Homo sapiens: one gene and its partners. The protein of the gene in region 1 interacts with the protein of each later gene in a pairwise test. Each region holds a gene or a part of one and is shown in the gene's direction. Other genes may lie near its edges. The genes, in order: HSF1, CHST10, WDR88, ZNF232, KLF15, TMEM185A and LPIN1.

The links.
Region 2: the proteins of HSF1 (region 1) and CHST10 interact in a two-hybrid assay, tested with the Homo sapiens proteins (one large-scale study listed by BioGRID and IntAct).
Region 3: the proteins of HSF1 (region 1) and WDR88 interact in binary tests that used the Homo sapiens proteins (3 or more experiments, as listed by UniProt).
Region 4: the proteins of HSF1 (region 1) and ZNF232 interact in binary tests that used the Homo sapiens proteins (3 or more experiments, as listed by UniProt).
Region 5: the proteins of HSF1 (region 1) and KLF15 interact in binary tests that used the Homo sapiens proteins (3 or more experiments, as listed by UniProt).
Region 6: the proteins of HSF1 (region 1) and TMEM185A interact in binary tests that used the Homo sapiens proteins (3 or more experiments, as listed by UniProt).
Region 7: the proteins of HSF1 (region 1) and LPIN1 interact in binary tests that used the Homo sapiens proteins (3 or more experiments, as listed by UniProt).

Annotation. Positions count from the first base shown.
Region 1 is NC_000008.11:144,310,945-144,315,220, forward strand, and holds the end of HSF1 (heat shock factor protein 1), read left to right. Parts: intron 1-229; coding exon 230-305; intron 306-376; coding exon 377-438; intron 439-560; coding exon 561-657; intron 658-755; coding exon 756-892; coding exon of another isoform or gene 893-933; intron 934-1,018; coding exon 1,019-1,300; intron 1,301-1,683; coding exon of another isoform or gene 1,684-1,767; intron 1,768-2,566; coding exon 2,567-2,672; intron 2,673-2,901; coding exon 2,902-2,967; intron 2,968-3,040; coding exon 3,041-3,110; intron 3,111-3,180; coding exon 3,181-3,386; 3' UTR 3,387-3,776; downstream 3,777-4,276. UniProt on the Homo sapiens protein: Functions as a stress-inducible and DNA-binding transcription factor that plays a central role in the transcriptional activation of the heat shock response (HSR), leading to the expression of a large class of molecular chaperones, heat shock proteins (HSPs), that protect cells from cellular insult damage.
Region 2 is NC_000002.12:100,403,202-100,407,668, reverse strand, and holds part of CHST10 (carbohydrate sulfotransferase 10), read left to right. Parts: exon of another isoform or gene 1-222; intron 223-961; 5' UTR 962-993; coding exon 994-1,093; intron 1,094-4,467. UniProt on the Homo sapiens protein: Catalyzes the transfer of sulfate from 3'-phosphoadenylyl sulfate (PAPS) to position 3 of terminal glucuronic acid of both protein- and lipid-linked oligosaccharides.
Region 3 is NC_000019.10:33,169,463-33,173,522, forward strand, and holds part of WDR88 (WD repeat-containing protein 88), read left to right. Parts: intron 1-2,040; exon of another isoform or gene 2,041-2,885; coding exon 2,886-2,978; exon of another isoform or gene 2,979-3,123; intron 3,124-4,060.
Region 4 is NC_000017.11:5,104,687-5,109,296, reverse strand, and holds the end of ZNF232 (zinc finger protein 232), read left to right. Parts: intron 1-244; coding exon 245-371; intron 372-2,763; coding exon 2,764-3,473; 3' UTR 3,474-3,561; downstream 3,562-4,610.
Region 5 is NC_000003.12:126,349,942-126,354,408, reverse strand, and holds part of KLF15 (Krueppel-like factor 15), read left to right. Parts: intron 1-1,461; coding exon of another isoform or gene 1,462-1,486; coding exon 1,487-2,568; intron 2,569-4,467. UniProt on the Homo sapiens protein: Transcriptional regulator that binds to the GA element of the CLCNKA promoter. Binds to the KCNIP2 promoter and regulates KCNIP2 circadian expression in the heart. Is a repressor of CCN2 expression, involved in the control of cardiac fibrosis.
Region 6 is NC_000023.11:149,621,109-149,625,575, reverse strand, and holds part of TMEM185A (transmembrane protein 185A), read left to right. Parts: intron 1-4,467.
Region 7 is NC_000002.12:11,822,826-11,827,292, forward strand, and holds part of LPIN1 (phosphatidate phosphatase LPIN1), read left to right. Parts: intron 1-1,806; coding exon 1,807-1,966; 3' UTR 1,967-4,467. UniProt on the Homo sapiens protein: Acts as a magnesium-dependent phosphatidate phosphatase enzyme which catalyzes the conversion of phosphatidic acid to diacylglycerol during triglyceride, phosphatidylcholine and phosphatidylethanolamine biosynthesis and therefore controls the metabolism of fatty acids at different levels.

The DNA of each region.
Region 1 (4,276 bases):
ACCCTACGTGACACCAGGTGTCCCCGGCAGGGAGGGGCAGTGGGACCAGCAAGCCCTGGCCCTGGCCCCCAGTCCCTCCACACACAAGTTCTCATCCTGGGGTGGGCCAGGCCAGACATGGTCACACTTACCCCTGCTCCTGCATGGGGGACAGGGAGGGTCTGTGGGGCTCCCTCAGCCCTGGGGCTCATGGGATTGGGCCCCACTGACCCAGCCTGGTCTGTTGCAGTGAGAATGAGGCTCTGTGGCGGGAGGTGGCCAGCCTTCGGCAGAAGCATGCCCAGCAACAGAAAGTCGTCAACAAGGTGGGGGCAGGGCCAGAGGGCCGGCGGGGGCCCCACAAGGGCCGGGGTAACTGTGTCCTCTCTCTCCACAGCTCATTCAGTTCCTGATCTCACTGGTGCAGTCAAACCGGATCCTGGGGGTGAAGAGAAAGATGTGAGGTTTTGGGGATGCCTGCATCCACCACCCGGGGCCCAGGGCTGTCCCCCTTCTCTGTCAGCTGTGCCCCGGGTACCCCGAGGTGGGGGGTGGTGGCTGACCTGCACCCTTCCCCACAGCCCCCTGATGCTGAACGACAGTGGCTCAGCACATTCCATGCCCAAGTATAGCCGGCAGTTCTCCCTGGAGCACGTCCACGGCTCGGGCCCCTACTCGGTGAGTGCCGGAGACAGGGCACCCGCCCAGGCATGCAGGCGGCAGTGGGGTGGGTTGCCCCTGCCGGCACTGCATGGACCTCCTGCCTTTGATTGCAGGCCCCCTCCCCAGCCTACAGCAGCTCCAGCCTCTACGCCCCTGATGCTGTGGCCAGCTCTGGACCCATCATCTCCGACATCACCGAGCTGGCTCCTGCCAGCCCCATGGCCTCCCCCGGCGGGAGCATAGACGAGAGGTGGGGGCCGCATCACCCCAGCCATCCTGTCCCCCAATGAGGCGAGCCCCTGTGGGCCCAGGGCAGAGTTGGGGATGAGGTGGGGCTGGCCGAGACGCCAGCTCACCTGGCCCCCCTCGTGTGCAGGCCCCTATCCAGCAGCCCCCTGGTGCGTGTCAAGGAGGAGCCCCCCAGCCCGCCTCAGAGCCCCCGGGTAGAGGAGGCGAGTCCCGGGCGCCCATCTTCCGTGGACACCCTCTTGTCCCCGACCGCCCTCATTGACTCCATCCTGCGGGAGAGTGAACCTGCCCCCGCCTCCGTCACAGCCCTCACGGACGCCAGGGGCCACACGGACACCGAGGGCCGGCCTCCCTCCCCCCCGCCCACCTCCACCCCTGAAAAGTGCCTCAGCGTAGCCTGCCTGGACAAGTGAGTGCCGCCCACCCCTGGCCCCACCCACAGCGCCTGGACGCACAGCCCTGGGCTTCAGCCCCGACTGTCCCAGTGGACTGAGCAGGGCAGCTGGCGAGGCAGGACCCTACCCCCAACCTCGGAGCTCGGGGCTGGGGAGGGAGACAGGTGCCAGCCAGATCACCCCACAGTCCCAAACGCCACAGAAGCCACGGGCATGTCCGGACAGGCTGCCGGGCCCTGCTCTCAGCCACCCGTCCTGCTGCCGCCACCCTCGCCACAGGCCACGGGCCCTGGCAGGTCGTGCTGCCCAGACACATGGCAGGAGATGGTGAGCAGGGCCGGCCTCCACACCCCCAGCCCCTGCCTGCAATGGGGGCTCTTGTTTTTGTATCTTGCAGTTTGGCTCGCACTCCACAGATGTCTAGGGTCGCCCGCCTCTTCCCCTGCCCCTCTTCCTCTCCGCATGGCCAAGTCCAGCCAGGGTTAGCGCTGACCCCACTGGGGAGGGAGGAGGGCTCTGCCAGCGCTCGGGCCCTCCCACACAGCCGTGGACCAGACCCAGCCTGGCCGGGCATGAGCGTCGGGCCTGGGCGGCAGCAGCCGAGACCCCTCTGTGGCGGGGGCTCAGTGTCGTCATGGCTCCCCTGGCCACGGGCCTGTGGTCATTGCCTGTGACAGGGATGACAGGGACAGGCCTCCCTGCTCTGGCACGGCCTCTGGTGTTGGCAGGATCCAGACTGCGGTGCTGACTGCACTTCCTGTCAGGCAGGGTCTCCAGGGCACCTCTGGGACCCAGCCTGGCTGTCCGTCCCATAGCCCAGGTGTGCCCTGTGGCCTAGGGCTTTCTTGGTCACAGCCACCAGACCGTGGGTCTCATCCCCACAGCAGCACCAGGGCAGGGACTGAGCCACCCACACACTGAGCAGAGCCCCACCTGTTTTCCCAGTGCAACGGGAAACCTCACCAACCCTGAACACTGAAATCCCTGATCCTTGTGCTGGAGCTGAATACGCCCCTTGTCTCCTGGGTCCACTGCCACCAAGGCCCCCAGGCCCTCATGGCAAAGGGATGCCCAGCATAGGCCCAGCCGCACCCCTGCAGGGCACAGAGCCTCCACTGCCTTCCAGGCCGTCCTCGAATGCGCTGCCCCCTCCAGCCTGTGCAGGCGTACACGGGGGTGCAGCCTGGGGGGTACAGTCAAGGGGAGCCCTTCTCCCACAGGAGGGCATTGGGGTGTGGGGCCTGGGGCACTGGTTCAGGTACCGCCTTATCCCGGGCCAGGAATGAGCTCAGTGACCACTTGGATGCTATGGACTCCAACCTGGATAACCTGCAGACCATGCTGAGCAGCCACGGCTTCAGCGTGGACACCAGTGCCCTGCTGGACGTGAGTGGAGCCCCGCCGCCCCGCCTCCCCGCCCCGCCTCCCCGCCGCGCCGCCCCGCCTCCCCGCCCCGCCTCCCCGCCTCCCCGCGCCGCCGCCCCGCCTCCCCGCCCCGCCTCCCCGCGCCTCCCCGCCTCCCCGCCCCGCCTCCCCGCCTCCCCGCCCCGCCTCCCCGCCCCGCCTCCCCGCCCCGCCCCCGGGTGCTGTTCTGACTTCCCTCCCTCCTCCGCAGCTGTTCAGCCCCTCGGTGACCGTGCCCGACATGAGCCTGCCTGACCTTGACAGCAGCCTGGCCAGTGTGCGTAGGCGGGCGGGGGGTGAGGGGGAACGAGACCAGCGGGAGTGCTCACAATACCGTCTCCACCCCACAGATCCAAGAGCTCCTGTCTCCCCAGGAGCCCCCCAGGCCTCCCGAGGCAGAGAACAGCAGCCCGGATTCAGGTGAGCCAAGTCCCACCGGCCCCACCTCTGCCCCCAACCCCCCACCGCCTTGACACCCCCACCCCCGCAGGGAAGCAGCTGGTGCACTACACAGCGCAGCCGCTGTTCCTGCTGGACCCCGGCTCCGTGGACACCGGGAGCAACGACCTGCCGGTGCTGTTTGAGCTGGGAGAGGGCTCCTACTTCTCCGAAGGGGACGGCTTCGCCGAGGACCCCACCATCTCCCTGCTGACAGGCTCGGAGCCTCCCAAAGCCAAGGACCCCACTGTCTCCTAGAGGCCCCGGAGGAGCTGGGCCAGCCGCCCACCCCCACCCCCAGTGCAGGGCTGGTCTTGGGGAGGCAGGGCAGCCTCGCGGTCTTGGGCACTGGTGGGTCGGCCGCCATAGCCCCAGTAGGACAAACGGGCTCGGGTCTGGGCAGCACCTCTGGTCAGGAGGGTCACCCTGGCCTGCCAGTCTGCCTTCCCCCAACCCCGTGTCCTGTGGTTTGGTTGGGGCTTCACAGCCACACCTGGACTGACCCTGCAGGTTGTTCATAGTCAGAATTGTATTTTGGATTTTTACACAACTGTCCCGTTCCCCGCTCCACAGAGATACACAGATATATACACACAGTGGATGGACGGACAAGACAGGCAGAGATCTATAAACAGACAGGCTCTATGCTATGGCCTCCATGTGTTTCCTCTGTCCCAGGGTGGTGCGGTGGGTGGTGCTGCAATGAGGAGGGGCCCAGGGCACAGAAGGGCCGGGCTGCAGTGGCCTCCTGGGGGAAGACGGATGCTTGCAGCTAGCTCCGTGCCTGCCCGACTCCCCAGGACCAGCATGTGCTTGCAGTTCTTTATTGAGGGACCAGGGGTGGGCGCCTCACCTTGGCCCTGGGGGTCTCTGGTTGTCACAGGACCACCAGGAACCCCCTTCCCAAGGTGTTCGCACTCGGACAGGTGATGCGGGGCGGGCACACTGTCTTTCTGCCAGAGCCAGCACCCTGTGTAGGCACGGGGAACGGGAGCCTGTCCCGTAGCTTTAGGGTTCTCCACTCAGCCTGGTGGAGGAAGGGAAGGGGGCCTGCGCTGGGCAGTGGAGCAGGCTTTGCTGCTTTATCTGGCAGCAACAGTTTGTTCTCGAGCTCCACTGGCCAACTGATAGGGAGAGGCACAGGAGCC
Region 2 (4,467 bases), on another chromosome or scaffold:
AGACAAGGAGAGTGATTCACCTGGGTCTTCATGGAGCTCTGACCCACCCAGGGTTAGGAGGCTCTCTCTGAAATTATTTGCCATCAGCACTGTGTTGAGGGGACCACTTCTCCCTGCCATGCAGAAGTGATGGATGGCCTCAGTCAGTCGGTGGAAGCCAGCTCAGCCCAGGGTCTTGTCTGTACGTGGAGAGCTTTGGCTTGAAGAAGCACTGTGTTAAAGGTGAAATGAAACACACTTTCTTGTGTCACCTGCCAAGAACTGACAGTGACTTCCCAGTTCTTTATGTGCCTCCTGCAGGAGAGTGTGGCTTCTGTGCCAGGCTGAGGACCGACATGCCCCGTGTTGCTCCCTGGCTGTGACAGCATGAAAAACACCCACCTCAGTGTTCTACCCAGGCCGCTGCTGGCAAGTGGGCGGAGGCGAGAAGCGTCAGTGTTCATTCCTTTGCTTTTTTAGAGCTTCTCTAGGTGTGGCTACATCTTGTCAGCCAGTCAGAATTTTAAACACAGCCAGCTCCTAATTGCCCCAGCATGGCTTCTGCCCACTATGAATGACCCTCAGCTAAGGCCTAGTCCTTGGCAGGCCTCTTCCTGCCACCTGCTTCCAGACCATCGTGGGAGCTCACTGGGACCTTAGCCTGGGCCCAACAGGAGTCAGGGATCAAATGTGCAAAGGAGTCTTATTCTGTGTTCTGAGAACACAAGGAAGTGGTCTTCTCTCATTATCATGTCTCTCCATTAGGGTGTTCTAAATTTGATTTTATTATTGAATCAATCATTTATATTATTAATTCAATATGAAATGTTAAATGCCAAGTCAAACTACCTATTGTAGCAGTGGAAAAAAACGGAAATATTTGTGCTGATACTTACTGACTGAAATCACCTGTCGTTTTCATTCCTCTTTGTTGACTTGATGTATTTGTAAGCAGCAGGGGCATCTCGCTTGTGTTTTCCAGGAAGAGTCAGTGAATGGCTGCGGTGTGACAACATGCACCACCAGTGGCTTCTGCTGGCCGCATGCTTTTGGGTGATTTTCATGTTCATGGTGGCTAGCAAGTTCATCACGTTGACCTTTAAAGACCCAGATGGTACGTATGCTTCATGGTGGAACGAATTTTGGCTAATTTAGACCTAGCTGCAACACTGTTCCTAGGTACATGCATAGATGACTTCTGTCACAGAGTCAAAGGACTTTCATGCCAGCAGGGACCTTGGAGGTCATGGCCTCCGTTCCTTCATGTTACAGAGGTGTGAGGGGAGGTAGGGTGGGAGGGGCTGGAGGGTCTTTTCAAGCATCTCCTCTGGAGGAAGGAAGCTGCTCTTTGTGGCTGAGGCCTGGGTGGTGCCTAGGAGCAAGGAGCAGGGTCTCCTCCCAGCAGCACAGTGGCCTTATGCCTTGCAGCAGGGCGCCTCTCAGGCTCGCAGTTGGGAATTCTCTTTGCCTCATGTCATCATGAGAGGTGCAGCCTCAACTGCTTGGCATGCCCGTGTGGTGGCCACATGTTTGAAGGTCACCCTCCATGCAGCGGAGGAGGGTCATTTAAATGTATGTCTTCAGGTTGTCTTGGAGGCTTTCTTAGCTCTCCTTTACTGAACGTAGGCATTCAGATGAGGACGGATAAAGAGCGCCAAATTGGGTCTCAGAATGCTGATTCTACTTCGTGCTCTTGTCATTTGCTTATCTACATCACAATGTTTCTTCCACCAAATGGACACCCTGCCTGCTCCGGCACCGCCCATGATTGCCCTGAGCATGGTGAGGTGCTCTGTGGTCTGTGGAGTGCTGGATATGTCCAAAGAGGTGTGTGATATGCTCTCCAGCCCCGAGGCCACTTCATTGAGTGGCCAAGCAGGCAAGCACGAGGAAGCCAGACACATGGAGTCATTGAAGTCCTCATTTGTGCCGTGGATTGGCCCATTCCTTTAGGCTGATTGGGAGATACTGGGGAACGTGGATGAGCACAGCACTTTGCTGTGCTCTGCACCGTACTTTGTCCTCCTGCCGATGGTGGCCTTGGAAAGGGGCAGTTAGAGATGCCTCTGTGCCAGCAGTTCTTCCTGGAGGCTGCACTGACCTGTGCTGTCTGTGTGGGACAGGCCCCTGCTCCACCTCACAGAGCTCCCAGGCATGTCCCTGGCTGTGTCAAGGACTGCCCGATGTCCTACACCTCCTGCCCCATCCTCTCTCTGCCCCACCTTGTCTGCAGAGGGACAGCAAGGTTAGAAGGGAGGTCTGCAGGGAAAAGAGGGACACCCTGAAATTAGCCCACATGGTGGTTCTCCCCATGACAGTTGTTGGGCCCTGATTGGCTGTCATCACATGTCCTGCCTCATCCTCCAGGAGCCCTGGAGAGAAACCTGTGAGGTCTGCACAGCCTCGGGAGGTGATATTACACCTGCAGGTATCTGGGCAGGTGTCACTGAGCATGACAGCTCACGCCCGGGACTCGGGGTTCCGTCAGCAGAGCAAGGGTCGATTCTTGGAGGGTTGCTGGAATGTGACACGATGATCTCAGTTTGACAGTTTGGACATTTCCATGGCAGCTTCAGCACAGTGCCATGCCACTGAGAGATCCCTCCTGAAGCCCTAGAGCCGGGTTCTCATCCCCGCAGCACTTCAGAATCACCTGTGGGACTTTACAGACCTGCTGCTGCTTGAGACCCAGTGAAGGAGAATCACTAGGGGTGGGGCCCAGTTGAGAAGCACAGTGGTAGATCCTAGCTGGAGAACTGAAGAGAAACAGAGCTGCTGAGAATAAGAAATAGGTGTTACTCAGGATTCTCCTAAATGTCACCTCCTGGTATGGAAGGCACTCAAAAGGCAGGTCATGAGGTTAAATTGTTTATGGTTTATTTTGCTTAAAAAAGTAGGAGTAGATGTAATACATTTTAGTGAGACTTCTATAGGTAATAGTTAAATAAGACTTGTGCCTTTGTGTTTTACTGTTATCTGGCAGAATGGCCTCTAAAGAATGCCTTGTTTCCCAGCGGCATCTGGTAAATGAGGTCTCATTCTCCTTTGATGTATCAAGTTTTGTGCTGAATGTTTTCAGTGTAGACACTGATCCTGGAAGCTAAGCAGGGGTAGGCCCGGTTAGAAAAAAAGCAAGTGTAGGCGCAGAACAGGGTTTTGTGAAGCGGAGAAAAGGAGTGGTAAGGAGTGTTAGGAGATAAAACCTATGAAGAAAGATGAAGGGCTTTCGGATTTTACACCTGGAGAGGAGCACCGCAGCGGTCCTTAATACTGCCTGTGAGATCTTTCCAGCCGGCTGCCTTCAGGCGAGTGAAAGGGGGCACTTTCCCTGCCCTGTGAGATCTGGTGTGGTGTGTGGGTGCTGGGTCACTGAGATGGGAGTGCTGCCCCTGACCCCGAGGCAGGGGCTGCTGGTGGTGAGGATGCTGTTGGCCGCACAGTGTGCAGTGAACTCAGTGAGAATCTTCTGTTGTGGGCCCACTCCCGTTGCGGGGTGACCACCACAGCACTACCCAGCCTGCCTCACTCGCGTGAGATGTTACCTAATTGTCCCAAGGGACCTGGTTAGGTTAGGATCCTGAAGGTGGATATCCGCCAGCTGAGTTCTGGATGCAGGATGCGAGCTGGCACCCAGCATCTTGCCAGTGCACAAGGACGCTGGGCTGAAGCATCAAGAGCATTTACACTCAGAGCCTGCCCCTGCAGGCGTCAGAGAGGCCCTGGGCTGGGGTGGTGTAGGCCTCTCCCCTGGAGCCTGCCCTTCCAGCACTGTGCTTTAGAGAGTGTGTCCCGGAGCCTGGATCTTGGGCAGCACAGGAACCCCTCTAAGCTCGTGGCCATAAAGGGCTTCTCACATGTTGGAGTTTATTTCACACACGTTCACGGTGTTTTTGATTATGAACCAGAAGCCCATTGTGAAGTGTCAAGACCAGGAAATAACAGACACGGCAGTGTCCACGGTGGGGAGTTCCATTTCCTGGAAAGTGCGTGGAGAAGCCTTGGCCTCAGTGCTCCCGGGCTGCTCCTTTCAGCTCTGTCCTCTGGGACAGGGCCAGCCTCAGAACCCCCATCAGTGGTGTGCATGTTCTTCTCACCTACCTGCCTTTCCCGGTTTCTCCTGCCACTGGAGCCCCTAGGAAGAGCATGGTTGTCGTGAGTTGCTGTTTAAAGCAACACTTACTTTTTTTAGTGTTACAGTTTCTGTTCAGCTCAGCAGTGGAGCCAGTGATATTTGTGGCAATGATTTATCCTCAGTTAGCAAATTTCAGTATCATATTGAACTAGGATCAGGTGTTGTAACTAGACTTTCTCATAAGAAAATAAATCCCCCTCAGCGAAGGGAATGTGATGGAATCATATGGCAAGACTCAAAATGATGCCCTTGTGGACCTGGTTTGTGTTTGTAGGCGCTGGTTTTTCCTCTCCTGGTTGACTTCCTCATTGGTTCTGAGCCGCTTGAGGGCAGAGCCTGTGATGTGAAGGTCTCTG
Region 3 (4,060 bases), on another chromosome or scaffold:
CAAATGGCCAAGAAGCATATGGCAAGATGCTCAACATCATTAGTCATTAGGGAAATGCAAATCAAAAGCACAGTGAGGTATCACTTCACATCTATTAGGGGGTCTATAATAAAAGAACTCAGAAAATAATGAATGTTGGCAAAGGATGTGGAGCAACTGGAACCCTTGTGCCTGACTGATGGTGACAGAGTGAGACCCAGTCTCAAAAAAAAAAAAAAAAAAAAAAAGATTTTACTTACTGGCAACAACAGGTTTTTTGATTTGTAGGCTTTATTTCCCAGCACTCCAAAAGTGTTCAATGTACTAAATCTATAAGCTTGCTTTGAAAGACCAGGTATTTGTCAATGAAGTCCTTTGCACTATAAATTCACGGTATAGGCTATATCTATCTAAAATGTGCATTATTTATTTATTTTATTTTATTTTATTTTTGAGATGGAGTTTCTCTCTTGTTGCCCAGGCTGGAGTGCAATTGCACAATCTTGGCTCACCGCAACCTCCGCCTCCCGGGTTCAAGTGATTTTCCTGCCTCAGCCTCCCGAGTAGCTGGGATTACAGGCATGCACCACCACGCCTGGCTAATTTTGTATTTTTAGTACAGACGGGGTTTCTCCATGTTGGTCAGGCTGGTCTTGAACTCTCGACCTCAGGTGATCCACCCACCTTGGCCTCCCAAAGTGCTGGGATTACAGGCGTGAGCCACTGCGCCCAGCCCATTTATTTATGTTTTAAAGAGACAGGGTCTTGCTGTATCGCCCAGGCTGGAGTGCAGTGGCATGATCTCAGCTCACTGCAGCCTGAACCTCCCGGGCTTAGGCGATCCTCCCGCCTTAGCCTCCCGAGTAGCTGGGATTACAAGGTGCCCGCGATCATGCCTGGCTAATTTTTTGTATTTTTAGCGGAGGCGGGGTTTTCCCATGTTGCCCAGGCTGGTCTCAAACTCCTGGCCTTAAGTGATTCGACCGCGTTGGCCTCCCAATGTGCTAGGATTACAGGCATGAGCCACTGTGCCCGGCCCATTTTGACATCTTTTCTATGGTCAGAAATGATAATAGCCATCTTGTAGGCACATGTTTAAGGAAGATATCTCTTTCCATTTCTCTAATTGAAAATCTTGGCTGGGCACGGTGGCTCATGCCTGTAATGCCAGCAATTTGGGAGGCTGAGATGGGCACATTGCCTGAGCTCAGGAGTTTGAGACCAGCCTGGGCAACGTGCCCAAACCCCATCTCTACTAAAAATACAAAATATTAGTGGGGTATGGTGGCGCATGCCTGTAGTCCCAGCTATTCGGGGGGCCAAGGCAGGAGAATCACTGGAGCCTGCGAAGCGGAGGTTGTAGTGAGCTGAGGGCATGCCACTGCACTCGGGCCTGGGTGACAGAGTAAGACCCTGTCTTAAAAAAAGAGAAAAAAAGAAAGAAAAAATCTCATTAAGTGCTTCTGTACATTTCGAGGAAGGTGAAAAGTGGCCCCAAACACACTATAGGTGTGTATCACCACACCCAGCTAAATAAAAAATATTATTATTATTATTTTTTTGAGACAGAGTCTCGCTCTGTCACCCAGGCTGGAGTGCAATGGTGCGATCTCGGCTTATTGCAAACTCTGCCTCCCAAGTTTAAGTGATTCTCCTGCCTCAGCCTCCTGAGTAGCTGGGATTACAGGCATGCAGCACCAGGCCTGGCTAATTTTTGTATTTTTAGTAGAGACAGAGTTTCGCCATGTTGGCCAGGCTGGTCTCAAACTCCTGACCTCAGGTGATCCGCCTGCCTTGGCCTCTCAAAGTGCTGGGATTACTGGTGTGAGCCACCATGCCCAGCTTGAAACTAACTTTTGAATTAAAGTATCTAAGAGCTGGGAGGATGTTTTTTGTTGTCATGATTTGACAAACCACTTGCTATACTGTAGGAAGTATGCTTATTGGTAAGATCTGACAGCTTTAGGCAGCATGAAGTCAACACATCTGTTACAAAAATGACCCCTTTGTTCTCCCACAGGATATTTAGTTGCAACTGCTGAATCAAGAAATGTAACATACTCAATGTATCCATTTTTTTATTGCTGCTATAATAAGTTACCAGACTGTACTGTTTAAACATTAAACAACATAAATTTAATATCTTACAGTACTGTAAGATAGAAGTCTGATAAGCTCTCACTGGGCTAAAATCTAGGTATCAACAGGACTGCATTCCTTTCAGGAACTATTATTAACTAAGGTCCATGGTTTTATAGTTTCATGCTTTGTGTTACTGTATATTTTTGCCAAATGCATATCATATATCCACCAATACAGTGTCATATAGTTTTGTTTGTTTGTTTGTTTTGAGACAGAGTCTCACTCTGTCGCACAGGCTTGAGTGCAGTGGTGCGATCTTGGCTCACTGCAACCTCCGCCTCCTGGGTTCAAGTGATTCTCCTGCCTCAGCCTCCCAAGTAGCTGGGACTACAGGTGCACGCCACTGTGCCCAGCTATTTTTGTATTTTTAGTAGAGACGGGGTTTCACCATATTGGTCAGGCTGGTCTTGAACTCCTGACCTCACCCACCTTGGCCTCTCAAAGTGGTCGGATTACAGGCATGAGCCACCGCGCCTGGCCATACAGAATAGTTTTACTATTCATCCCTCCTCCTCTTCCCTATAATCCTGGGCAATGACTCATCTATTTATATTCTTCAGTTTTGCCTTTTCCAGAATGTCATATGGTTGGAATTATACTCTGTAGCCTCTTCAGGTTGGCTTCTATGGCATAACAATGTGCATTGAAGGTTCCTCTGTCTTTTTGTGCCTTGACAGCCCATGTCTTTTGATTGTTGAATGACATTCCTTTGTATGGATGTACCACAGCCTGTTTTGTGACCGCTGGTTTGCTATTTGTTTTAGGATAGGACCATGAGACTGTGGAATATTGAAGAAATTGATGAAATTCCTTTGGTAATCAAGTACAAAAAGGCCGTGGGCTTAAAGTTGAAACAGGTTGGTATTGGGTAAAATTAAGCCCAGTGAAGGCTTTCGTTAGTTCCCTCTATAAATTAATTTATCATTTGAATGAACTTTGGGCACCTGGAGATGCAATCGTGAACAAACAGACTGACATTTTTGCCCCAGGGGAGCTTAAATTCTAAGAGAGGAAACAAAGAGGAAAGACACAAGAAAAATGTGTAGTAAGTCTCATGGTGATAAGTAATTGACAGAAAAATACATAGCAAACAGGAGTAGGAGTGCTGGAGGTTGCAAGATTTTAAAGGGTGGTCAGGATAGGTCTCATTGAGGACTGACAGCTGTGTCGACTTGAAGGTGGTGAGGGGGTGAGCCATGCAGATATTTAGAGGAAAGAACTTCCAGCTGGATGCGGTGTTTCACGCCTGTAATCCCAACATTTTGGGAGGCTGAAGCAGGCGGATCACCTGAGGTCAGGAGTTCGAGACCAGCCTGGCCAACATGGTTAAGTCCTGTCTCTACTACAAATACAAAAAAATTAGCCAGGCTTGGTGGTGCACACCTGTACTACCAGCTACTCGAGAGGCTAAGGCAGGAGAATCCCTTGAACCTGGGAGATGGAAGTTGCAGTGAGTTGAGATTGCGCCACTGCACTCTAGCCTGGGTGACAGAGCGAGACTCTGTCTCAAAAAAAAAAAAAAAAAAAAAAAAAAAAGAGAAGAAAGAACTTCCCAGCATAGAGAACAGCCAATGCAGAGAGAGCCTGAGAGGCAGGAGCCAGCCTGGTGCATCGGAGGGGTGGAGTGAGGGGGCTTGGAGGGGATGAGACCTGCAGGAGCACTGGTCAGTGGAGGAATGGCCGGGTACACAGCTGGGCACTGCGTCAGCCTCCTACCCTGGGCAGGTCCCCAGTGCCCCACTTCCCATGCAAAAGGCTTAGGTGCCTGCGCTTCTCTAGTGCAAGAGCTTGGTGGTCAGGCCAGCATATTTTCTGCTTCACCAGGCACAGCTGGGGCTGGCCACAGAGGCTGTCCCTGGGCAGTGGAGGCAACTCTCCGCTGGAGCCTCTCTGTGCACACACCTGGCTGCTGCCTTGGAGTGCAGGCTGGGCCCCTTTA
Region 4 (4,610 bases), on another chromosome or scaffold:
TCTTGGGCCAGGTAGAGCAGTTAGTATGTGTTTCTGTGTCTGTCTTTTCTGCCCTCGAGCCCTGAATGAGAAAGAGACTCTAGCTCCTCTTCTTCCCTTGTGCTGACTCTGAGGAGGCTCTCTAAAGTCTCCTTGGAAGCTTTGGTCCAAGGAGGGTCACATCTGCAAGTGTCCAGGCAGGGGACAGAAACCACACTAGTAATTTGAAGAAAATTTAAACTGAGTGGTGCCTGATCACCTCCAGGTCCCAGGCCCTGCACATGGACCTGCACAGGAAGAGCCATGGGAGAAGAAGGAATCTCTGGGAGCAGCCCAGGAAGCACTGAGCATCCAGCTCCAGCCTAAGGAGACCCAGCCTTTCCCAAAGAGTGGTGAGGAGCAGGATTCTGTGGGGAGGGAGAGGAGAAAGAGGGACTATAAAGGGCACAGTACCTAGTACCTGTAAAGGGTAAATAGTAGTAGGTGCTTAAATGTTTGGTATCATCACAGCCTTACTATTCTTATCTCTTAGGTGAGAGACTTTGCCTGTTTCATCACTCATAAAATTAGGAGTAAGAATAAACTACCTCATAAGATAGCTCTGAGGATTAAGCTCAACTTGGGTCTTATCTGGATATAAAGCCTGGCCAGCATCTCTTAACTTTAGAGAGCCCTAAATCAGGACCAGGAAATAGCTCATTCATTTATGCCTTATCATCTCCACTGCACTTAACTCCTAGTCTATAATAACTCTGCCCTGAGCTAGAGGCCAGCCTTGAGATCCTTTTTTTTTTTTTAAACTCGCTGAGGCCTCGCAAAACACTTTTTAAGCCATAAAGCACTCCTATGTGAGATACAGCCTGTCATCACCTTTACCACCTCTTCCTCATGTAAACAGCCCTATCTGAAACTCTCTTATGTGTGCCCTCACCTTCTACCCTTCAGATTCACTACAGAAACTTCCTTCTTGGCCTGCATACATACCTGCAAACAACCTCTCCTCTCTCCCAGCGGCGAACACTAGACTTAGAGCCTCAGGGGCGTGAACTCTCCTTGTTGACCTCTGTAGCCTTGTGACCGTATTGTGAATATGCGGCTAACCAAGAAGAGTCTACTTGATATTTGCTTTTACACCATAACTGCCCCCCCATCACTATCACCAAACCAAGGCATTTGAAAAATCAAATTCTTCTTAGTTACAAAATGGGAAAAAATAGAAATGGAGATTAATTAGACTCTGTCCCAAAAGTATGTTTCTACTTCTTAGCTCTTCTTTCTTCCTTGACTTTTTTCCAGACTTTTTCTTGTCTCCTTTACTTCTGTTTAGTAAGCCTCTATTCATTTATCAATTTTATTACTTTACTCTCAAAAAGAAGCTAGCTATTGTGTGATTTTTTTTTTATATATAGCAAGCATATTTCAGATTTTTTTAACCACAGCATTTAACCTGAAAAAATGAATTTTTAAAAAATCAAATGATCTTGGCTGGGCACGGTGGCTCACGCCTATAATCCCAGCACTTTGGGAGGCTAAGGCAGGTGGATCACTTGGGTCAGGAGTTCAAGACCAGCCTGGCCAACATGGTGAAACCCTGTCTCTACTAAAAATTCAAAAATTAGCCAGGTGTGATACGCGCCTGTAATCCCAGCTACTGGGGAGGCTGAGGCACGAGAATCACTTGAACCAGGGAAGCAGAGGTTGCAGTGAGCCAAGATCATGCCACTACACTCCAGCCTGGGCAACAGAGCAAGACTCTGTCAAAAAAAAAAAAAAAGTCAAATGACCTTGAGTTATCTTAAAGCAATTGGTTTCTGTTCTCCTTAGGCTATAGGGAGCATTACAACAGATAAAACATAAAATGTGCTATGGACATTTAAAAACAAAAAGGCAACACACTCTTTTTTTTTTTTTTTTTTTTTTTTTCCTTTTTGAGATGGAGTCTCGCTCTGTCGCCCAGGCTGGAGTGCAGTGGCGTGATCTCGGCTCACTGCAAGCTCCACTTCCCGGGTTCACGCCATTCTCCTGCCTCAGCCTCCTGAGTAGCTGGGACTACAGGCGCCCGCCATCATGCTCGGCTAATTTTCTGTATTTTTAGTAGAGACGGGGTTTCACCGTGTTGGCCAGGATGGTCTCGATCTCCTGACCTCGTGATCCACCCGCCCTGGCCTCCCAAAGTGCTGGGGTTACAGGTGTGAGCCACCACGCCCGGCAACACACTCTTTTTCCCTTTTTAAGGAAGAGAAAGGCAGAGAGCACCAAGCAGATAGGAGGCAGGGAGCTGGAAGTCCTCCCTTTGATAAAGGAGGCAGTTAGTTGAGAGTCCTCTAAAGAGGCTATAGATTGATGCAGCTGGGAAACGGATGGGAAGAGGTGAAGGTTGCAGAGCCAGGAAGGGCACAGTTTTTTTTGCCTTTAGAAACCTCCCTTTTCCTTAACCCTAATGATTCTTTCATGTTTTTCCCTTTCTTCACAACATCATTCCCTGATTCCTTGAAAATATGAAAAATCCTAAAAAGACCATGCATTGTAATTGCTTTCATTTTTTCAATAAAACTTCTTTAGTGTTTCATTATGGAGAAATTAGGGGAAAAAAAGCAGATAAATGGGAGAAATTAAAAAGAAGAAACCCTCTCCTCTGTATAGTCCCATCACCAAGAGATAACTGTTGGCAATATCCAGTAAATATTCTTCGAATGTTTGTCATATATATAGTTGTTTTTAAGCATTTGTTTTCATTCCAGAAATATACATTTTAATCTAAGTGTCATTTCTTCATACATCCAGAACAGGTATATTTACATTTTCTGTCAGTTGTTACAGAAGATGGCCCAGAGCCCAAGGACAAAGGATCATTGCCACAACCACCCATTACTGAAGTGGAATCACAGGTGTTCTCAGAAAAACTTGCTACTGACACCTCTACATTTGAAGCTACCTCTGAGGGTACCTTAGAACTGCAGCAGAGAAATCCCAAAGCGGAGAGACTGAGGTGGTCCCCTGCCCAGGAGGAAAGTTTCAGGCAGATGGTTGTCATCCATAAGGAAATTCCCACAGGGAAGAAAGACCATGAATGTAGTGAATGTGGTAAAACCTTCATTTATAACTCACATCTTGTTGTCCACCAGAGAGTTCATTCTGGAGAGAAACCCTATAAGTGTAGTGACTGTGGGAAAACTTTCAAACAGAGCTCAAACCTCGGTCAGCATCAGAGAATTCATACAGGAGAGAAACCCTTCGAATGTAATGAATGTGGGAAGGCCTTCAGATGGGGTGCTCATCTTGTTCAGCATCAGAGGATTCACTCAGGAGAGAAGCCCTATGAGTGTAATGAGTGTGGGAAGGCCTTTAGTCAAAGCTCATATCTAAGTCAGCATCGGAGAATTCACAGTGGAGAGAAACCTTTTATATGTAAAGAATGTGGGAAAGCTTATGGATGGTGCTCAGAGCTCATTAGACATCGGAGAGTTCATGCCAGAAAAGAGCCTTCCCATTGAATTGAAGGGGAGAACGTCTCCAGACAGAATTCTACATCGGTCTAATCTACTTTAGGACTGGATCCCATAAAAGTTATAAGTTCCTTAAGATTTTTCCTGTGTCTTTCTTGATTTTGGAAAAACTGTTTACTTAGTTCTGCCTGTAGATCATCCCTTCATGTCCTCTGATGAAGATACTGATATTAATTAGGATGCTTTGGATGCAAGTAGTAGCCAAGTTGTTTTGCTTCTTTCCAGCATGATCTGCCTAGTTTGCCCACCAATAATGTCTACCTCATTAGAATTTTGTTGTTGTTGTTGTTTGAGACGGAGTCTTGCTCTGTCGCCAGGCTAGAGTGCAGTGGCACGATCTCAGTTCACTGCAACCTCCACCTCCCGGGTTCAAGCAGTCCTCCTGCCTCAGCCTCCCAAGTAGCTGGGACTACGGGCATGTGCCACCATGCCCAGCTGATTTTTTATATTTTTAGTAGAGACGGGGTTTCACCATGTTGGTCAGGCTGTTCTCGATCTCTTGACCTCGTGATCTGCCCACCTCTGCCTCCCAAAGTGCTGGGATTACAGGCCTGAGCCACCATGCCTGGCTACTTCATTAGAATTTTTTTTTTTTTTTTTTGGAGATGGAGTCTCGCTCTGTAGCCCAGGCTGGAGTACAGTGGCGTGATCTCGGCTCACTGCAAGCTCCGCCTCCCGGGTTTACGCCATTCTCCTGCCTCAGCCTCCCAAGTAGCTGGGACTACAGGCGCGTGCCACCACGCGTGGCTAATTTTTTTGTATTTTTGGTAGAGACGGGTTTCACCGTGTTAGCCAGGATGGTCTTGACCTGACCTCATGATCCGCCCACCTCGGCCTCCCAAAGTGCTGGCATTACAGACGTGAGCCACCGCGCCCAGCCTTCGTTAGAATTTTTCACCTGGCACTGAGCAGCTGCTCGGGAAGTGTTAGTTATATTTGTATTTATTGTGAATGGGTCTTTCGTCTGGCTCCCTTTTTTTTTTTTTTTTTTTTTTGGTAGAGATGGAGTCTCACTATGTTGCCCAGGCTGGTGCCAAACTCCTGGCCTCAAGCAGTCCTGCCGCCTTGGCCTTCCAAAGTATAGGGATTACAGGCATGAGCTGCAGTGCCTGACCAGTTCCGGCC
Region 5 (4,467 bases), on another chromosome or scaffold:
TGGCCATTGGGCAGTGCCGGGTGCCAGGCCCTGAAGGGGTCCTGGAGACAGAGGGGCTGGGTGTAGAGGTGATGCTGGGCAGCAGAGAACCTCTGACTTTGGTGCAGAGCATTCCCCTTCCCCAAGCTTGATAAACACCCAGCCTGCCCTGGTCACTGAGCAGGGACAAAGGTTCACAGAGGTGGCCCCGTCACAGCTGGACACTATTGACTCTCCTTGGCACCAGACCTAGCATGTCCTTGGCTTCAGAGGATGCAGCTTTCCCTTCTCCTCTCTATCAAAGTTCTCTGAGCCCCTGCTGGGCACCAGCGGCCAGTCCAGGCACTGGGGACGCAGCAGAGACATGGAGTGCACTGTCTCAGGGGGAGACAGGCATTAGCTGAACCTTCGCAAGGCGGTGAGTGTCCCAGATGGAGAGAGCAATGGCAGAGAGTGCAGGGGACTCCACTTCCTTATTGGTCAGGATGGGCTGGGGGGGTGGTTGTCTCCTTTCCCACTAGATGGGTGTGAAGTCCAAGGCAGTTAGGCACATGCGGGTGCTCTGGGACCCCAGTGGTCTGCTTCCACTCCACGGATTATCACCAGAGGGGCAGGGCCTTGGCCACCAGGATGCTCAAGCATCAGGGTGCAGGTGAGAGGGTTGCGTTCAAGCCTGTGCCACTCACAGGGCAGTCAAGGCTCAGAGGGGTTTGAGGACTGGAGAGTGGAGGAGCTTTAGGTGGGGAAACAGCTGCGCAGGCAGGCACTTTTTGGTCTTTGACTGTTTTGCCTACATGCTACACTTGCCCAGTTAAAATGCAGGCGGCCTAGTTAAATTTGAATCTCAGGTGAAATAATTTTTAAATGTAAGTGTGTCCTATCCAATATTGGGAACATACTTATATTAAAAATAGTTTATTTTTTAAATCTGAAATTCGAATGTAACTGTTGGCTTGTATTTTTATTTGCGTAATCTGGCAACCCTCTGGAAGCCTCAGCAACATGAGGGTCAGAGGGCAAATGGCTGTTCTACCCCCATTCTGTGACTCAACAGGCGTGAAGCTGAGGTCAGGAGTCCTCAGATGTACAGTGACTCCTATGATGTTGACGGTGGGCTGATTCAGGGCTTTGGCCCTCCTGGGGTCCAGAGAGCCTCCTCGCGCATGCCCTTCTCTCATACTCACCCATACTCAGTTGTTCACAGACATATGTGCTATTTTCCAGGATAATTCTGGAAAATCTGTTTGAAACCAGAAGTGCCCCTGGTTATGCAATGGGCTTGGAGAGGTCTCTTTTGCAAACAGGTGGTGCAATTTCAGAAAACACTCTTGCAGGCACAGCTCTCCTGGGGGATGGAAGCAGGATCCAGGCGTTTGGCAATAGGAGGCTGTGGGCAGGCAGCTGAGGGTGGGGTCAGAGGCCTGCGAGGTGGCAGGTGAGCACTGTCCTTCTGACCAGGCCTCCTGTGTTCCTTTCCTGCAGCCGCCACCGGCACGGCCAGGCCAGCATGGTGGACCACTTACTTCCAGTGGACGAGAACTTCTCGTCGCCAAAATGCCCAGTTGGGTATCTGGGTGATAGGCTGGTTGGCCGGCGGGCATATCACATGCTGCCCTCACCCGTCTCTGAAGATGACAGCGATGCCTCCAGCCCCTGCTCCTGTTCCAGTCCCGACTCTCAAGCCCTCTGCTCCTGCTATGGTGGAGGCCTGGGCACCGAGAGCCAGGACAGCATCTTGGACTTCCTATTGTCCCAGGCCACGCTGGGCAGTGGCGGGGGCAGCGGCAGTAGCATTGGGGCCAGCAGTGGCCCCGTGGCCTGGGGGCCCTGGCGAAGGGCAGCGGCCCCTGTGAAGGGGGAGCATTTCTGCTTGCCCGAGTTTCCTTTGGGTGATCCTGATGACGTCCCACGGCCCTTCCAGCCTACCCTGGAGGAGATTGAAGAGTTTCTGGAGGAGAACATGGAGCCTGGAGTCAAGGAGGTCCCTGAGGGCAACAGCAAGGACTTGGATGCCTGCAGCCAGCTCTCAGCTGGGCCACACAAGAGCCACCTCCATCCTGGGTCCAGCGGGAGAGAGCGCTGTTCCCCTCCACCAGGTGGTGCCAGTGCAGGAGGTGCCCAGGGCCCAGGTGGGGGCCCCACGCCTGATGGCCCCATCCCAGTGTTGCTGCAGATCCAGCCCGTGCCTGTGAAGCAGGAATCGGGCACAGGGCCTGCCTCCCCTGGGCAAGCCCCAGAGAATGTCAAGGTTGCCCAGCTCCTGGTCAACATCCAGGGGCAGACCTTCGCACTCGTGCCCCAGGTGGTACCCTCCTCCAACTTGAACCTGCCCTCCAAGTTTGTGCGCATTGCCCCTGTGCCCATTGCCGCCAAGCCTGTTGGATCGGGACCCCTGGGGCCTGGCCCTGCCGGTCTCCTCATGGGCCAGAAGTTCCCCAAGAACCCAGCCGCAGAACTCATCAAAATGCACAAATGTACTTTCCCTGGCTGCAGCAAGATGTACACCAAAAGCAGCCACCTCAAGGCCCACCTGCGCCGGCACACGGGTGAGAAGCCCTTCGCCTGCACCTGGCCAGGCTGCGGCTGGAGGTCAGTATAGCGAGTGACAGGCCTGGGCAGTGAGCACAGCCACTCATGTCTGCTTACTTGGGTGTGCAGCAGGGCCATTTTCCACCATTAACAGAAGGTAGATGAGGGAGGGGAGGGAGGGGCAGGCGGGTGCAGGCCCAGAGCTGGCACAGTTGCCTGGAGGCTTCCTTGGTCCTCCTGGTTCCTGAAGCCGGAAGCCAACTGGTGTCCAGTTTCCTGATGGCCAGGTAAGGCTTCACTGGCCTGTGCTGCCAGCTGGGTCTCCCCATCCAGTCTGACAAGGGTGGGGATTGAGGGGCTGGCGAGGAAGGATGAGTGCGGTCTAGGGGCCAGGCAGCGGCTCCCTTTGGGCCCACAGCCCCACAGGGTAAGTACCACCATCACTCCCAACTTACATCACAGGACACTAGGGCTCCGACTGGCCAGGTACTTGCCCAAGGTCACTCTGCTTTGTGAATGGGATTTGAACCCAGAGGCCGGATTCGAGAGGTCACATCCTGAAAATGCTGCTTCCCCAACCAGTGGGACTAGCTTCATTCACAGATGTCTCTGGACACATGGGCTGGGCCTCGCCTATGCTTCCTCCCTGGGGACGTGGAAGCATGTTTGGGAGGCTGCAAAGGCCAACCCAGAGGGAGGCTAGGCCAGCTGGTGGTGCTGTCACAGGTGGCAGAACCCAGGCTGTCTGGTCTGCATGGCAGTGGGGAAATCAGGCCTCAAATGGTAACTGGTAGTCTCCCAACCAGGGAGCACCCTTCCCTGAGCACCGGGTGCTGCTCAACCTCCTTGGGAGTGGCTGTCCACCTTTTCCTGAAATGTAGGCTGCTTGCGAAGAGCTCATGTGCTCCGGGGTGCCAGAGCCAGCCCTCTGCAGTTCCTGATGCCCATCCCAAAGGAATCTCTGGCCTGCCTGGGGGGCGCTGTGTGCTGTTGGCACATTCCAAATCTTTGCTGCTGTGGCTGCTGCTACGTGTGTGAGACGGGGCACACTCATCTGTATCCCTGGGGGTGTATACAGGCCTGGGCCTCGCCAGCAGGTGTGTGGCTGTGTGTGTGCACACCCACATGTGTATGCATCTTGCTTTCTTTGTGTCTGTCTGTGCCGTGTGACCATATGTGTTTGCACACATACATGTCTTAGGTGTTTGTGCACCATGTGTGGCTGCCTGTGTGTGCATGTGTTATGTGTGGGTGCAACACCCGGGGAGCAGTTTGCAGCTTTTGTTTTCTTGACCATACTCTGGTTCTGAGAGCTCTTGAGAGTTGTCTGGGGCAGAGGTTCTGGCCAGTGAGGCTGAGCTGTGGTCAGGGAGCTGTGAGTGGAATGTATGTTGTGGCACTGGTGCCACCTTTCCATTGAGTGCCAATCTGGCCAGAGAAGGGAATTTTCCTGAACAGTGTCTAGGTTTATGGAGGCCCCTCCTGAGTGAGGACATCACTCTGTCCTGTCTCCCACCCCATTCAGACAGACCGGAGAGGCTTCTGTGAGAGCCCACCCTGGGGCCTCACAAGGTCTCCATCCTGGAGTCCCCACCTCTCTGAGCTTTGTACCTAGGCCTGCCGAGTGGGTGCATGGCTGACAGGTTGCTTGTGAGAGGAGGACACAGCAGCAAGTACACTGCATAGGAGGTTAGAGGAGCCGAGAGAAGGGCCAGGAGTGCTCTTGATTGAAGCAGGAAACTTGTGCAGAGAAGGCGAGGGCACAGGTATGTGGGGGCTGTGGTCTTGAGCCTACGCCTGGGTCAGCCACTAACTTGTCATGTGCCTTTGGGGTGGTCCCCCTCCAAACCTCAGTTTCCTGTCTGCAGAGTGGAGGGCTAGCCCTTTGCAGCCCAGGGCAGGCGTGCAGGGCTCCACAGCGGCCTCCTTGTTGTTTGTACATCATAAGGATACAAACTC
Region 6 (4,467 bases), on another chromosome or scaffold:
GGGATAGTCAGAAGATCAGACTGCAGGTTCTCAAGGTGCTTCCAAGAAGAAAGCTTCAAAGATGATTTGAGTAATGAAGTACCATTGGAATTACTGCATTGCCTCCCAAGGGGACTGGTTAAAGGAGAGAAATCTCATTTGAATGTATAATTTCCAGTTTTAAAAGTATCATTCCTATTACTTGATAATTACACACACATTGTTCTTAGCTGTGTTCTTTGAGGGCCAGGATTTGGAGGTGCTGAATTACGTGCTGAATGAGTGGATGTTGGGTACAAATAGACATCTACCACTGGGAAGTCTTTGTTGTACAGGAGAGACCGTGGATTGAAGGAGTTTTAGATAGTTTCCTAGGACTCCAGAAGTTAAGCTTTTTAATATGGAGCTTGAGTTTTCTAATCATTTTGCCTGATATGTCATGCCTGTACAAGATGACTGGAATTTAAGACAAAAGCCTCGAACTCTGGAGATAGATGCTTTATAAGTGGAGACTCATACTTTGTCAGCTCCAACCTAATAGTGACAACAATGATTGCTAAATGAGATTATTACCTACAATGTGGCAGAACTTTTGTCTTTCATAATACTGCTAAAGCTAGAATGGGTAAAATGTATCATTTACACAGTGCTTTCACATACCCTTGTCTTAATGAATCAGTATATGAGGAATCAGATGAGGAGACAGACCTGGGGGAAAATAACTCACCCAAGACCACACCGCTGATGAATGGCAGTTGAGGAACTTAAATGCAGATCTTCCTACTGGCCTGGGCTCTGCTTTTATTTGGCTTTTGTGCTTTTTTGTATCTACTGGTTAAATGCTCTTAAACATTTTTTATCTTAATAAAACCAGCTAAAGTCTCCACTAAAAGACTTTAAATTTGGTTAATAAGGTGTAAGAGGGGCAGTTCCCTTGATAGTTTGTGAGTATGTCAGGTTGTCATTTGGAGCCATTCTGTCAAGCTTTAGACTGGGATGTGCCATCCAAAGTTTGTGTGTGTGTATGTGCTTGTGCGTGTGTACGTGCATGCAGGCATGTGTTAATGCGCGTGTATGTGCTCCAGTGAAGCCAGCAGCTTCCACTGGAAAAAAACTGATAGGTCTAAAAAGAGTCCAGCTGCATTCTTATGATATGCAGAAAACAGATACTAGAACTTTTACATTCAGAGTCATCATTCCTTTGCTAAGTATATTCTCTCTCTCCCTCCCTTCTTCCTTTTCTCCCTCCCTATTCTCCCAACCCTGCAAAGTGGAGAGAGGGAATTTGAGCCTGAGCAGAAAGCTCCATGTAAATTTCAGAGAGGATACTAGCTTTGGCCCAGGTAGCACTACTTAGTGATTCATCGTATACTAACACTACAGATTCAAATGAGAGTGGAATAAATCCATTCTAAAGGTGTAACTGGAAAAGTGAATTTTAAGAAGTAGTGATTAATGTTAAACCAGAACCTCCCATTTCTCCCAGGTTTGTGGAGAATTAAGCAGTCTATTTTTATACTTGGAATCTGGTCTGAATGTTTCTTGAAAAGTAACTCAAAGTAGTTTAGGCTATGACCATAAGTTATTTTTGTAAATACATTTTCTTATCACTGTATTATTGCATATTATTGTGTATTCTTTTGCAAATCAGGCTTGATATTTCCTTTTGGCTATGCAGTCACCTTTTAGACTTTGCTTGCAAATATATTGATATAGTTAAGATACTATTCTTTCTTTCCCCAACTAGGAGTGTGTATGAATTACATCTTTTGAACTTACTGATTGTATTACTTTGTTTTACTTGATCAACTTTGTAGTTTAATTTTTTTAAAAAGCTAGCTGTTGGGATTACTGATCAGTTTCATTTTTATATCTATATTTCTACTTTTAGTTTTATTATTTTCATGTTTTGGCTTTTTCCCCAAATTTCTTAGAAACTCAGTTTACTAGTTTTCTTTTGCCTCTTTTTTTTTTTCTTTGTTTTCTACTTTTACTTAAACATTTTAAATGAACACATTTTCTCTTGAGTTTTGTTTTGGCAGCTGCCCAGGTATTTTTATGTTTCAATTGTATTTTAGTAACTCTACTAAACTGCTTAACAAATCAGTATTGAAAATGATCCATTTTTTGTCAGTGTTTTTATGAATTGTATAAAATGTCTACCTCTGGTCTCTACTGATTACAATCTACCTTACACACTCATATGTATCTTCTGTCACTCTTGTTGAGAAAATCTGCAGTGGCCCCATATTACCTATTAATAAATTCCAAGGACTTTACCTTGATATTCACATTCCCCTACCATGTTACCACAGCCAACTTCTGGCTTATTCCCCCCAGTACCCTTTCTCCTGTCTCTGCAGCACCCTACCCACCACGATTTATAGAAAGTATTCTGTGTGTTCCAGTCTGCTGGAATTGGAGAGGGGAGGATAAAGAGGGGATGAGCAATGGGTACAATAATACAGTTAGATAGAAATAATAAATCTAGTGTTTGGTAGCACAAGAGGGCAAATATAGTTAATAATGTATATTTGCAAATAACTAAAAGAGTGGAATTGAAATGTGCCTAACACAAGTAAGTGATCAGTGCTTGAGGTGATGGATATCCCAGTTACTCTGATTTGATCATTACACATTGTATGCTTGCATCACAGTATCACGTGTACCCCATAAATAGGCACAACTGTTTTGTATCCATAATAAATAAAAATAATTTTTAAAAAATTGGAAAACATCTTATTCCCTTTGTCTGGAATTCCTTATTCCCAACTTGTTGCCCAGATTCCACTTCTCTTCCCATCTCTCTCAGGGAAATTAATCTTCCAAGTCCCCTAGTTTACCATATGTAGTTACTTGTTGATACATCATCTCCCTCTGTTCCTATTAGTCTGAGCATCTTGAGCGAACGCATTGTTGCTCCTTTTTATGTATCTCACACATTTCAGGCACTCAAATATTTTTAACAATTGTAAATTAGATGTGTGTTTATTGTGTATTGCTGCCCCATGATCCTTTTTTTCTCCCTGGAAAAACTATATATATGTAAAGCAAGTATGTTTTCTTGTTCTGCTACGTAATTATCTTCATATAAGCTTGCTGTTTTTTAAATTTTCTCGTTCTGCTACTTAATTCTCTTCATATAACCTTGCTGTTTTTTAAATCTACTCTTGTGTTCATTTCCGTATTTTCCTTAGGAACTTTGTCTGTTTTATCTGTCATGATTTAAGAGTAGCATGAGGAAGCCCACAATTAAAATATTTCTGTGTATCCTTAAAAAAGAAAAATTGTAAAATTATTTCCATATTCCATGGTCATGTTAGGTTTTTGTTATTTAGGTTTTCCTTATTAGTCCTTTTAGCATTTTAATACTTTCGGCTTTGAAATCTAATTTATCTAATTTTAAAGATAGTAAATTGTTGCTCTTGTCTTCATCCAGGCGTGCTAAACCTCTGTCATCTGATTTCTGATAGTTGGTTCGACTTTTGACTTTGGTTCCAAGCGTAACTCTTGAATGTAACAGGTTTACTTTCTTAATCTAGGAAGCAACCTTTCTTTTTACAGAGCTGTGGTAGGCAGAATAATGACGCCCCCAAGTATGTCCACATCCTAATCCGTGGAACCAGGGAATATGTTCTGTTACATGGCAAAGGGGAATTAAGGTAGCAGATGGAATTAAGTTTGCTCATCAGCTGACCTTAAAATAGATTATTCTGGATTCTCTGGCTGAGCCCAATGTAATTACAGGGCCCTTAAATATAGAAGAGGGAGACAGAAAAGGAGGTCAGAGTGATTCAGTATGAGAAGAACTGCATTCTCCATTGTTGACTTTGAAGATGGAGGAAGGGGCCATGAGCTAAGGAATGTGGCAGCCTCTAGAGCTAGAAAAGGCAAAGAAACATTCTCTCCTAGAGCCTTCAGTAGCATAGTCCTGCTGACACCTCAAGTTTAGCCCAGCGAGACCCATATTGGACTCTGACCTCCAGAATTGTAAGGGTTATGCCTTTTAAACCACTAGGTTTATGCTTTTTAAACCACTAGGTTTGTGGCAGTTTTGAATGGCAGCAATAGGAAATTAATAAGAGAACATTCAGCTCATGTATATTTTTCTAACCCTAGTATTTGAATCATGAATTATATTTTGTGGGTCCTTTTGTAAGTTTATCTTGTTTTCTATTTTTCATGTAATAGACATAAAATTTTAAGTTTCCTTTAAATTATGTCAAAAACCACATAAAATAATCCCTTTTCCAACATTTAAAACATTTTGGTACTTCTCTTTTCTTTAGTTCCACTACTCTCTTTTTTTATTAAATAAGGAAACTGTTTTACAGAGGATAATGAAGTTAGCTTACAGCATTTACCACCCCCCCCCACCAATTTACTTTTTATTTATAGTCTGAAAATCCTTTAGGATAAAAATTACCTGTACATGTTATCTAATTTACATATGAATCCTGTGTCGTCATTATCTTAGCATTTGTTAAT
Region 7 (4,467 bases), on another chromosome or scaffold:
GAGGGTTTGGCTAGGTGGCCTCTGCGGTCATTGCATTGACTGAGGCTCTAGGGTTAAAATGCACACCTCGCCCATGGCTTGGCCTAGGGTGGAGCTCTGCAGACTTTACTCATTGCCAGGGGATGTTGACATTTTACACCTGGACTGGAGGCGGGGTTGTTCCTGTGAGAGAGTAAATCTCCTCCCCCAGGAAGCTCACATTTCTCTGGCGCTGAACTTGGTATAGCTATTTCTGAGCCAAGTAGATGCTTGTCATTCAGAACTGGGACAGTCATCTGAAATGTCTTCAGAGGCTGGGGCCACACAGCGGGAGCAGCTCAGTTCTTTTTCCCTTTCGTTTGCGAGTGTCTGTGCGTAAGCTCTGCCTGCTTGGGAGGAGCACTGTGTGTGGAGGTCGGTCTGGGGGAGGCGCGCAGATGGAACTCGGCCTGGCCGCTCAGGGAGTGTGAGAGTGGGTTTGGTTCCAGTGCACCGCGGCCTTGTAGTCAAGCCTGCAGGGAGGGGCCCTGCTGCCGCAGCCACAAACCTCAGACAAATAAGCCTTAAAGCCGGGAGGTATTTTAAAAATCTGTCTGTTTGTTTGAATCCCAAGGAAAGACATAACTCTTGGTTTTGTATTAGGAGACGTCACTTTCCCATTTTGTGCAAGCACACTGTTTCTCATAAGTCCTTTGGAGGTCCTTTATTAAATATACACACTCGGCTTCATTTAGTACATTATTTTATACCTCAGAACATGCACACTTCTGGAGTCTGGATTTTGGAAGTTCCTTTAGGTTCTTAGCAATTTGGAACTAGACAGTGATCAGTGACTGTCAAGGAGGAATCTGGGGATGGCTGGCAGTGGGCTGGGTGTGCCAGAATCTCAGTTTGGAGGTGCCTGGAGGTCTGAACATGCATATTCAATATAGCAATAGCAACTTTCTTTTCATAGTATAAGCCACAGAAACTAACATGCAACATATTTTTGGGCATGCAAATAAAAGAGAGCAAGAGAACGTTGTAGGAAGCATTGGGAAGCCCTGCTCTAATTCAGCTCCACAGACTATAAAGACGAAGGGCTCCAAGAGGGCAAGACAATTGTCCAAGGTTACAGCAAGCAGGAGAGCCCGGGTCTCTTGACCGTCATGCCAACCAGGGCTTTTTTCTCTAAGACGTGTTGATAATTTGTCATTTAGATACATTTGAGCACCCAGTATACATTATTTTAATGTTGCATATGTTATTTTATTTAAATTATCCTTAAAACTGTGGCATAGTTTTTATTTTCCTCCCTTTACAGTGGAGGAAATTGGCTTAGAGAGGTTACGCCATTTGCCCACGATCACGCAGCTAGTAAATGGCAGAGCTGAACATCAAATTAATGTCTCTTTAACCCCAGGACCCAGCTCCTTTTCACTATGCAATGAAGCAATCTCTGTCAGGTGCTCCAAAGATGTGCCTTGTCTGTGATTCTTCCCCCGATGTCCCATATGTGACCCCTGCAGCAGGCGCTATCCCATGGCCATGGTGACTTCCTCCTGCCGTCTTTTGCTTGGCTGTATCTCCTTTACCTGTCCTTCAAGTGAAGTCAGGTCCCACCCACCTCTTCCCCAGAGCCTTCTCTGATGCCTTGTTTGCATACTCTTCATTTTCATCTCTCATTTTCAATTAATCGATAACAAATTATTCTAGAATGACTTGAGTCGTGTCGATAAGTAGGCGGTCTGCTCCTTGAGGTTGTAGATCTCTCTTGACTTCTACGTGCAGCCCTGGGTGCATAGCTGGTATCGCTCAGTGCCAGTGACAATGTCCCTTTCCTTCCAGGTATGTGAGACTCTGTGAAGTAGTCGACCACGTTTTCCCGTTGCTGAAAAGAAGCCATTCTTCAGACTTTCCCTGTTCGGATACCTTCAGTAACTTCACCTTTTGGAGAGAGCCACTGCCACCTTTTGAAAACCAGGACATTCATTCTGCCTCAGCGTAAAATGTCCCAAGCAGCCTCTTGCCAGCAGTGCAGAGCCTGGTTGTCACCCATTAAAGGATAGGTCTCCCCGGAGTGCACAGCTCCACCTGGGAGCCTGGCGCGTCATCATTGGCCTGACAGCAGAGAGAATTGAGAAGCATTTCTCCCCTGCCCCACCCCGGGGCTGACATTTCTAAGCAAGATAGGAAGGGAGCACTTTCTAGGCTAGGAGTTGGGTGCATTTGTACCGTGAAAAGCATTCCTCAGTTGTGGCTTAATGCCAGTTACGACGCTGCCTTTCCGGCCTGCTCCAGCAAGTAGCTACTGGTTCACGTGCAGTTTGGGGCTGTGAAACCTAGGCAGAAGGCGGCTGTCTGAGGGCTGTCCCCGCCTAGGACAGGGTCAATCGAGGAATGCCAGATGTGCACGGTTTTTGGCAAAGTAGGGGGCACATTTCCATTATAGCAATGTTAGTGCCACCACCTTCTGAACACAGTGGGGAGGGCTGTGAAGGCTCATGTGACCTGGATCTGAGGTCTCTGATAGAAATCTGGACGCCACCGGGTCCAGGCCTGGCCTCAGACTTGGCCTTGTGGATGGGCCCCTTACAGTATTTGCTGACTAGTCTCATTTTTAGGTGATAAATTTTTCTTTAATTCCTTTGGTTAAAGATAGTCTATTTCATTGGCATATCTCCCCCCAGTTTTTGTGGCTCAAGGCTGGAATATTTATGCCTTAATATATCTATGGCAGACATTTAAGAATGCGCTTTATCTAGCTCATGGTAACTTTGCAACGCCTTAGATTAAAATGACAGTAAATATTACTAAGGCAGTATTTTGAATGAGTTTGACACTGCCGGCTTCCTTCCATCCAGCGAGGTGGTGCTGACAGTGTGGACTTGAGCACACTTATGCCAAATGATAATGATACTGACTTCTGTTGGGAGCTCTCCAAAGAAACTGGTTGGTTTTAAGAAAATAGTTTCAAGAAGTTCAACTATATTCTTTTAGATATTATGTATTGTTTTACTCTGATTAGGTTACTGTGATAGGCATTTATTCATATTCTTTCTATACCACTGTCATTAATATATTAAAAAGATGTATGTGTTAGACTATCGAAAGGGCCTTATTCTCTCTTTCTCATAGACTGACCTTCTTTTGGAATTTCTGAGTCATTTATTTTCCTTAGCTTTTTCCACTCAAATTAAGGGCAAGCGAAAAAGTAATAATTTGGCATTCTTTAAGCCTACAGAATGTGATTCTTTCACTTGTTTATTACACTGGCTCGTGGACAGAACAATTTGAAAAGTGAAAGAATTATTTTGGTAAAAGATTTTGCTTTACTTTTCGAAGCATTATTTTTTTAAAGAGTGTTTTACTCCAACGATTGAAACATTTTCCTATTTAAATTTCATTGTTAGAATCACAGGAGGCAAAAAATGGAACGGTTGAATGAAATTTTACTCTTTCTGTGAAAGAAAATCCACAGAGTTGTTGCCTCCGTTGTAGTTGGTGGGCCCCGTTAGCATTGGATGCCTTTGCCAAATGGTTCATGTGGACACACAAAGGCAAACAGATCTGCCATCGATCGCAGATTTCTGTAGAAACACGGATGTGCATGTGCAGATTCCCTTTTGCAGGTATTAAAAATAATTAAAAATAGTCCTGCCTGAGGTTGCAGTGAGCCGAGCTTGCACTACTGCACTCCAGCCTGGGTGACAGAGTAAGACTCCATGTCAAAAAAAAAAAAAAAAAAAAAAAAGTCCTGCCTTAACTAACTCCTCTGCGCTTGTTCACTAGTAACCTAAAGAGGCTATATTCATTCTTTATGCAATGAGGGTATTTTTGAGTGAATTTTAACTGCTCTGAACTAAGTATAAGCTCATGGGCCTGCAAAGGTTCAGACGGTTTCTCCTTTGCACCCAGGAGGAACTTTGGCTGCGAGAATGGGGGGATGTATCCCTCATGCAGTTGGCATCCAGGCAGCCCTCTGCAGCAGCACACCCTGCAGGCGGAGTTTTCAGAGGATGCAATTTTGGATCCCGAATTTTGATGTACCTTAAACTTCCACATCACTGCACCCTGAAACAGAGCATGCTTTCCAGAAAGTCACACTCTCAGATCTGTGTCAAGTTCAATGTGAGCCCTGGCAAGGCTGGCATATTAACACCTGCCTTCTGGCTTCTGAAAGTGAGATTTGTATATGGGCTGCACTCACGCATATACGAGTTGGTTTATCTTTGTGTACATGACTATAACCCAGTGATGCTGAGGTCATGTGCTGGAATGCTGTATTTGGACCACACATTTCAAAGTTGCCCTATGGAAATGAATCCTACTTAGTGACAAGTCATCAAATGTTTGTCACATGTGATGAAGACAAATATGTATACCTGGCATAGAGAAAAATATATACCTGGTACATTGGAGAAAAATAATTACACTTTCAAAGAGAATTCCCTTTGCAATTTTATGTTTGGATCACCACTGTAAGCACACTTTATTTGCATTTGATCT